Linked DNA regions of Homo sapiens. The protein of the gene in region 1 interacts with the protein of each later gene in a pairwise test. Each region holds a gene or a part of one and is shown on either strand. Other genes may lie near its edges.

Region 1 (3,913 bases):
TTCCCTGGCTGGAGAGCTTGATTTTCCAAGTACCCAGTACGGGAGACAGTGTCTCCCAGCTTCAAGCCCAGGCAGAAGGCACAGGGCGTAGGAACCAGGGCCTGGGGATTTGCCACTTTCCATTTCTTGGGGGTGCCCAGCCTGCTGAGGGCTCACTGCTTACCCTGATCCTACCTCCCATGCGATGCATAGTCCCCACTCCCTGGCACTGCCCAGTCATAGATGCCAATCCACATACTCCTGCCCCGGGCTCCAAGGGACAGAACAATTCCGAGGCTGAGGACATAATAGTCTGCAGCCAGTGCAGTCTGTGCCGGGGGATGCGGCATGCTCAGATGCGGCCCCCACAATCTTGACCCACATCCCCAGGTTCCCAGCTCCCTCTGCGGTGACCTAGAAAGCAACCCCCCCAGCCTCCAAAGACCTGCTCAGATAGGGCTGGGAAGGGAACAGTGTGGGCAGCTGGAGACAAGTTTCCAAAAGATGGAAAGGAGCAAGGGGTTAGAGAAAGGGGCCAAGGCCAGGGGTTCTGGGGGATGGCAGAGGTTGAGGGGCCACTGAGGAGAGGCTGCAGGAGCTGGCAGGATCTTAGAACATATGCGACACAAAGTTCACAGGCCACAGACAAGATGCTGAGGAGGGGCTGGGGGTGGGGAATGGGGAGTTGCTGCAGTTCCTTCTTGGTCTGCCAGTGGCCCCTCCCCTCAGAAGGCCCAGAGGGGTAGGGCCAGGCTGGAAACCTCCGGCACAGTGAGCAGGGTGCTATGCTCCTGCCAACTCGGGGACAGGCACAGAGGGTGCTTTGTATGTGCCCGCTGCCCCACCCAGCCCCCAGCTCCCAGCCCAGTACCTCCTGCTGGCTCTGGGCAAGCTATCCAGGCAATAAAAGCACAATAAATCACCCTACCCTGACCTTGGGGACGCGGCAGAGCTTCATCTTGAGCCAAGTGTGAGAGCTCCAGCCTTGGAGCACAACCCCTCAAGCTAAGACTTAGTGCTGTGCCCCTCTCTCTAGGGCCCTCGATTCTTCCCTGACAAGCCCCAACCCTGCCGGGCACCTTCCCTTGCCCACAAAAGGACTGAAGCCTACAAAACAGTGCCCTCCTGGTAGAGAAGGATCCATGAGGGCTGTGGGGGGAGGTAAGGCAGGAGAGCAGGTGGCAGCCCAGGCAGCTTCCTTCTCCCCCAGCGGGGGAGGAGAGTTCACTTCGTGAGCCACAGTGACAACAGAAGGTGTGTGCGGTGCTTGCGCTGGTGCCCCGTGAGCCTCCCTCGCTTCCCCCACCTCCCTCATGCCTCCTGGGCTCTCTGGGGTCTCCCCATCACTCCTTCCAGGCTGTCTCCTTCTCTGCCCCACTCTGTGGGGCCCCAAACTCCCCCCACCACAAGTCTTCCTTCTTCAGTTGGAAGGTCCCCAGCCTTGCCCCAGACTGGCCACCCCTCTCCTGATCCCTTTCCTCTTCCCTGCCTCTACTCACCTGGACTCTCCTAAGATGTGGCCTAAAGGGGCAGTTGAGGGGGTGCACAATTTTGACCACTGCACGGTGCATGGTAGCACCCTGGCCCTAACATCTTCATCCTGGCCTGTTCGCCCATGCTTGCAGTCAAGAGCCAGGTCTTCCCCTCACATCCACCCAGCCTCTCCCTACCCAGCCCAAGGTGGGAGGGAGAGGGATTTCTTAAATTCTCTCCTGAGAAGATGACACTCTGTCCCTCATGCCTGCTTTGGGGCCCTTCCACACACCCCTCTAGGTGGGGAGGTCCTTCCAGGTGCTGAGCCACACTGCCCACTTGCTGCAGCTCTGACCCTTCATTTTCCTGTCCTGGGGAAAGCAAAATAACCCCTTCCCTTCTCTCCTCCCTTCCCAGCCTCTCCTCTCTGTTCCCAACCCTGGCAAGTGGGCTGACAGGTATACCTGTTGACCTTGGCTGGTGCTGGGAACTTATTAAACCCTCCCCCGAACCACTTCCCAGCATACTCTTCCGGTAGCTCTCCCTCCCAACCTCCGCAGGAGCGGAGGGGGCTGGCCGGGCAGGAAGAGCCCCAGGCAGGAGTTGAGGTGGGGGGTTGGTAGGCAACAGGGCTTAGTCAGGAAGAGGCCCTCCTATGTCCTTCAGGTATATCTCCCCAGCTCCCTGACTAGAAACGAAGCCTCCTCCAGGTTGGCCCAGAAGTCCCCCTCTGACTCGCATCTCTTTCTCTTTGCACACCTTCTTCCCTCTTCTTGGACCTGGGATGCCCTTGCCTGCCTGTTAAATTCCTATGATCCTTCAAATCCAAGCTTAAACATCTTTGTGTACCTTCCTTGACCCTTTTCTTTTTTTATTTTTTCCCGAGACAGGCTCTCACTCTGTAGCCCAGACTGGAGCACAGTGGTGCGATCATAGCTCACTGCAGCCTCAAACTTCTGGGCTCAAGCAATCCTTGTGCCTTAGCCTCCCAAGTATCTGGGACTATAGGTGTGCACCTCTATGCTTAGCTCACTTTTTTTTTTTTCTTGAGACAGAGTTTTGCTCTTTTTGCCCAGACTGGAGTGCAATGGTGCGATCTCAGCTCACCACAACCTCTGCCTCCCGGGTTCAAGTGATTCTCCTGCCTCAGCCTCCTGAGTAGCTGAGATGACAGGCATGCGCTACCACGCCTGGCTAATTTTGTATTTTTAATAGAGACAGGATTTCTCCATGTTGGTCAGGCTGGTCTCAAACTCCTGACCTCAGGTGATCTGCCCGCCTCGGCCTCCCAAAGTGCTGGGATTACAGGCGTGAGTCACTGCGCCCGGCCCGCTTAGCTCACTTTGTAAATTTTTCATAGAGATGGGGGTCTCACTGTATTGCCCAAGCTGGTCTCGAACTCCTAGGCTCAAGCAGTCCTCCCGCCTTGGCCTCCCAAAGTGCTGGGATTTCAGGTGTGAGCCACCTTACTTGGCCCCTCCCTGACCCTTTGAGGCAAAGAGCCCCAAGGGGGCAGGGACCAAATCTGACTCATCTTATTCTGCCCAATGCCCACCAACTTGGCCTGGCATATACTAGGTGTTGAGTAAGTGTGCAAAAGGAATGGCTTGCTTTTCCATGGAGAAAGGGAAGCAGGAAAGAGGAGACCAGTGTGCAGATCTGTGCAAATGGGATGCAAATGGGAGGGGAGGCCAGGGGTGAAGCCCACAGGAGAAGGCGCCCTGGATGAGCAGGGGTGGGAGGTGGTCCACCACAGGCTGGTGAAGAGGAGCTGCAGGTGGAGTCCCTTCCACGCGGATGCCTGCTGGTTGTCTTAGGCCAGCCATCTCTTTTCTTTCAAGCCCACAACCCGATGTTAAGGCCCATAGCTGCCCATTGCAGCCTCGGGACTCCTGTGTTTTGCAAGGCCAGACTGAGAAAAAATTGGTCTTTACGTTGGGTTGTTGCGCCACGCTGACAGCGGGCTATGTGTGGCGAAACAATCCCTCCCCACTGACAAAAGCTCCCCTAGCGTCTGCCCAGTTCCAGGGATCAGGCGGACAGCCAGGAAGGTCGGTGGGGGTATAGTACCTTTCAGCGAAGGTGGTGTGTAGGCACAGGGGTTGGGTCTCTTCGACTTGAGATGGTGCCCCTCTCCTGAGGCTCTCTGCCAGGGGAAGTGCCAGGTTAAAGGGGCTCAGCAGAGGCCCTTGCCTTCACCATCCCTCCATTCCATCCCACCCATGGCCACCCAAGCAGACTGATTTAGCCACTGCTAATGGGTCCTGCACCTAGGCTGAGCCTCCCCACCCTGTGGCTTTAGGGGGGGCCCCCCATAAGCCATGGCCTGGTTCAGGGCAGGACTCTAGGTCCAGGAGGTTCCACCCTGAGTCTGAGCAGAGGAGGATCTGCTGGTGGCACCCTGGCATGAGGCACTCTCAGAGGACTGCCCATTGATATGCTAATGTGTCCTCTTGGGTGG
Region 2 (3,913 bases), on another chromosome or scaffold:
TGTAGCTTCTGTATCACATACTCTAGTCCACTCCACCCTCACAACAACCTGACAAGGCAGGGAGTCCTATCCCCAGCCTACCGACGGTGAGCCAAAGTCCAGAGTGTCACAGCAAATAAAAAGTAGCCAAGCTGGGATTTAGACCTAGGACTGACGTTAAATCTGACACACTCTCTCGCTTTGTGTCTGAGGTTTTGAAAGGGGTTCTTCGTATGCTCAGGTTTAGGGAGGTCAAAGAGTCTCTCTGTCTGAGAGGCTTTCTTTTTTTTTTTTTTTTTTTTTTTTTGAGACGGAGTCTCGCTCTGTCGCCCAGGCTGGAGTGCAGTGGCACAATCTCTGCTCACTGCAAACTCCGCCTCCAGGGTTCAGGCCATTCTCCTGCCTCAGCCCCCTGAGTAGCTGGGACTACAGGCACCTGCCACCACGCCCGGCTAATTTTTTGTATTTTTAGTAGAGACGGGGTTTCACTGTGTTAGCCAGGATGGTCTCCATCTCCTGACCTCGAGATCCACCCGCCTCGGCCTCCCAAAGTGCTGGGATTACAGGCGTGAGCCACCGCGCCCGACCAGTCTGTGAGGCTTTCAACACAGCTCTCTGTGTTTTGGAGGGCCTGGAAGCTGGTTATAAAATTATGTCATTTTTTTCCTTTATTCACTGAGAAAATAATTACTTTCCACTAAGGGACTGACAATAGTTTATTAAACAGTCCCCTACGGACAGACATCTGGACTATTTCTAATCCACATTTTGCTATTACAAACAATGTTGTAATGAATAACCTGAAACATGAGTTTTTTTCATATGCATTTCTTGAAGGGGGTTTGCTGAGTCAAATGCATCTGCAGTCTTAGCGGTTATTGCAACTTCTCTTTCATTGGGGTTGAATCATGTTGCGTTCCCCCACGGCATCACCAAAAGAGGGTGTCATCCAACCGCTGAAGTTTTACCAATCTGATAAATGAGAAAGAATATCTCAATTTAGCTTTAATTTGCATTTTTCTTATTTTTAGTAAGATCAAACATCTCTTCGTATGTTTAAGGGGCATCTGCAGTTCTTTTTTTGTTGAACTGTCTCTTCACTGCCTTTCTGTTTTTCATGTATTTTTTTAAAATTAAATTTTATTTTTTATTAAAGATATGCAAATAGTAAACAAAGCGTTAAATAGTATTTAAAGGCTTATAATGAAAAAACAAAAATTCCTATTTCCTCCTCCACCCTGTCTCATGCGCCAAAGGCTACCACTTTCAACTTCTATTTGTTTCTTCTGGCACTAGCTCTATATTTCTGCAAAATACACTTATACTGCTCTTTCTTGATTTTTCAGTGTTAGACATCATTCACTGATTTCAAATAAGGATTTAGTATCCTTACCTAACCTCTTACCATAAGCTTTCCTTCCCTGTAATCTTTCAACATAATGTTATCACAACAAGAGTTTACATTATTATGTTCACGAAAACCTTGTTCTCTGTTGAGCCAAATTACTCAATGATCACGTTTCTTTTCTTGTAAACCTTTTGTCTTTCCTGAAGTTATTAATTCACTCATTTTTTCATTTGCTTTGTTTTGGGGTGTCTTTTGCTCACAGGCTCACAAAAATCTTTCATATGGTCCAATGCATCAAACAATCTACCAGTTCCATTTCCTCAGAATCCTCCTGCCTTGCATCATGTTACACATGTTCCCTGGATTTGCACGCTGGCTGGGATTCACCTGCTTCTCCATCATTCCCCGGGACTGTCTGCTATGTTGAATGGAGCCTTCTCCCTTCAACCCCTATCTTTCTCTTCCCTGGTTTACCATCTTACCCTGATAAGCACATTCTCCAATAACTTCCTAAGAAAGAGTGCATGGGAAGTAATTTTTTTTTTTTTTTTTTTCTGAGACAGAGTCTTGCTCTGTCGCCCAGGCTGGAGTGCAGTGGCAGTATCTCCGCTCATTGCAAGCTCCGCCTCCTGGGTTCATGCCATTCTCCTGCCTCAGCCTCCCTAGTGGCTGGGACTACAGGCGCCCGCCACCACGCCCAGCTAATTTTTTTTTATTTTTAGTACAGACAGGATTTCACCATGTTAGCCAGGATAGTTTCAATCTCCTGACCTCGTGATCCACCCACCTTGGCCTCCCAAAGTGCTGGGATTACAGGCGTGAGCCACTGCGCCCAGCCCATAGGAAGTAAATTTTTAAGGCCTCGCATATATTTTTGTTTTGTTTTGAGACAGGGTCTTGGTCTGTTGCCCAGGCTGGAGTGCAGCAGCTTGATCATGGCTCACTGCAGCCTCCCTGGGCTCAAGCAATTCTTCCACCTCAGCCCCCCAAGTAGCTGGGACCACAGGATGTACCACCATGCCCGGCTAATTTTTGTATTTTTTTAGTAGAGATAGGGTTTCACCATGTTGGCCAGGCTGGTCTGGAACTCCTGACCTCAGGTGATCCACCCACCTCCGCCTCCCAAATTGCTGGGATTACAGCTGTGAGCCACCCACCACGCCTGGCCTTTCTTTGATTTTAAATAACATTTTGATATTTCACAATGATGTGCCTTGGAGGGGTGTGTGTGTGCGTGCGTGTGTGTGTGTGTATGTGTGTTTTACTCCAACCATTATGCTATGCATTTGATGAACCCTTTTAATCTGGAGAGTCACATCCTTTAATCCTGAACATTTCCTCATATTACTGCCTGGTAATTACATGGTTACTGTTTTCCTTGTTTACTATTTCTGGATCACTTATTCAGTAGATGTGGACTTCTAGAACAGTCTCTAGCTTTCTCATCTTCTCTCTCCTGTTGTCCATCCTCTTATCTTTCTGTTTTACTTTCTGGAAGATTTTTCTCAATTTTATCTTCCAACCTGTTGAGAATCTCAGTTTTTAACTTCCAAGACTTTTTTCTTGTTTTATGTATGAAGCTTCCTTTTTATAACATCCTGTTCTTGTTTTGTATAGGTCATATTTTCACTTAATCTCTTTGAGGTTTATATTTTTTAAAAAACCACTCTTCTGTTTTTGTTTGTTTTTTACTGTTTGTTTTCACTGTATTTTTCTCTTTGTTTTTGTCTCTTTTATTCTATTTTATGTATGTATTTATTTATTTCCTAGAGACAAGGTCTCCCTATGTTGCCCAGATAGTTTCAAACTCCTGGGCTCAAGGGATCCTCCTGACCCGGCCTCCCAAAGTGCTAGGATTACAAGCATGAGCCACCACACCTGGCCTCTGTCTTTTATTTTAGAGGCTATACTTAAATATCTGGTAGTCTTTGGATATCTGTTCCTATTTAAGAGTCAAGCACTAACATGGTGAAACCCCATCTCTACTAAAAATACAAAAAATTAGCTGGGCGTGGTGGCACATGCCTGTAGTCCCAGCTACTCGGGAGGCTGAAGCAGGAGAATTGCTTGAATCTGGGAGGCGGAGGTTGCAGTGAGCCAAGATCATGCCACTGCACTCCAGCCGGGGCAACAGAGCAAGACTCAGGTGTCCCGACCTGACGAGTGCCATTCAAGTTGGATTTAGCCATGAAATAAGTTACAAAAAACTTTACATTTATCAGCACTTTGGGAATTTTGAAACTACAGATAAGGGATTATAGATATATAATGCTGAAATATTTACTATCATATTGGTTCTGATCCACAATATTGGAAAATATTAAAAGTGGAAAATATAGGGCCTGACCCTGGTGTTACAATCATTGGCTTCACTTGAGTTCTCAAGTGTACCCACTGTGGCAGCAGCAATCCTCAACACATTTGCTGTTAGCCAGATTTTTAATACAGACCTACATGGCCTTAACTCATTCTTGTTTTTCTTGGCACTTATTCTCTTTTTTAAAATTTGTTTAAATTTTACTTTAAGTTCTGGGATACATGTGCAGAATGCGCGGGTTTGTTACATAGGTATACACGTGCCATGGT

What was found.
Region 2: the proteins of PPP1R1B (region 1) and KLHL6 interact in binary tests that used the Homo sapiens proteins (3 or more experiments, as listed by UniProt).

The regions. Positions count from the first base shown.
Region 1 is NC_000017.11:39,629,657-39,633,569, reverse strand, and holds part of PPP1R1B (protein phosphatase 1 regulatory subunit 1B), read right to left. Parts: intron 3,599-3,913; coding exon 3,523-3,598; intron 1-3,522. UniProt on the Homo sapiens protein: Inhibitor of protein-phosphatase 1.
Region 2 is NC_000003.12:183,549,091-183,553,003, reverse strand, and holds part of KLHL6 (kelch-like protein 6), read left to right. Parts: intron 1-677; exon of another isoform or gene 678-951; intron 952-3,913. UniProt on the Homo sapiens protein: Involved in B-lymphocyte antigen receptor signaling and germinal center formation.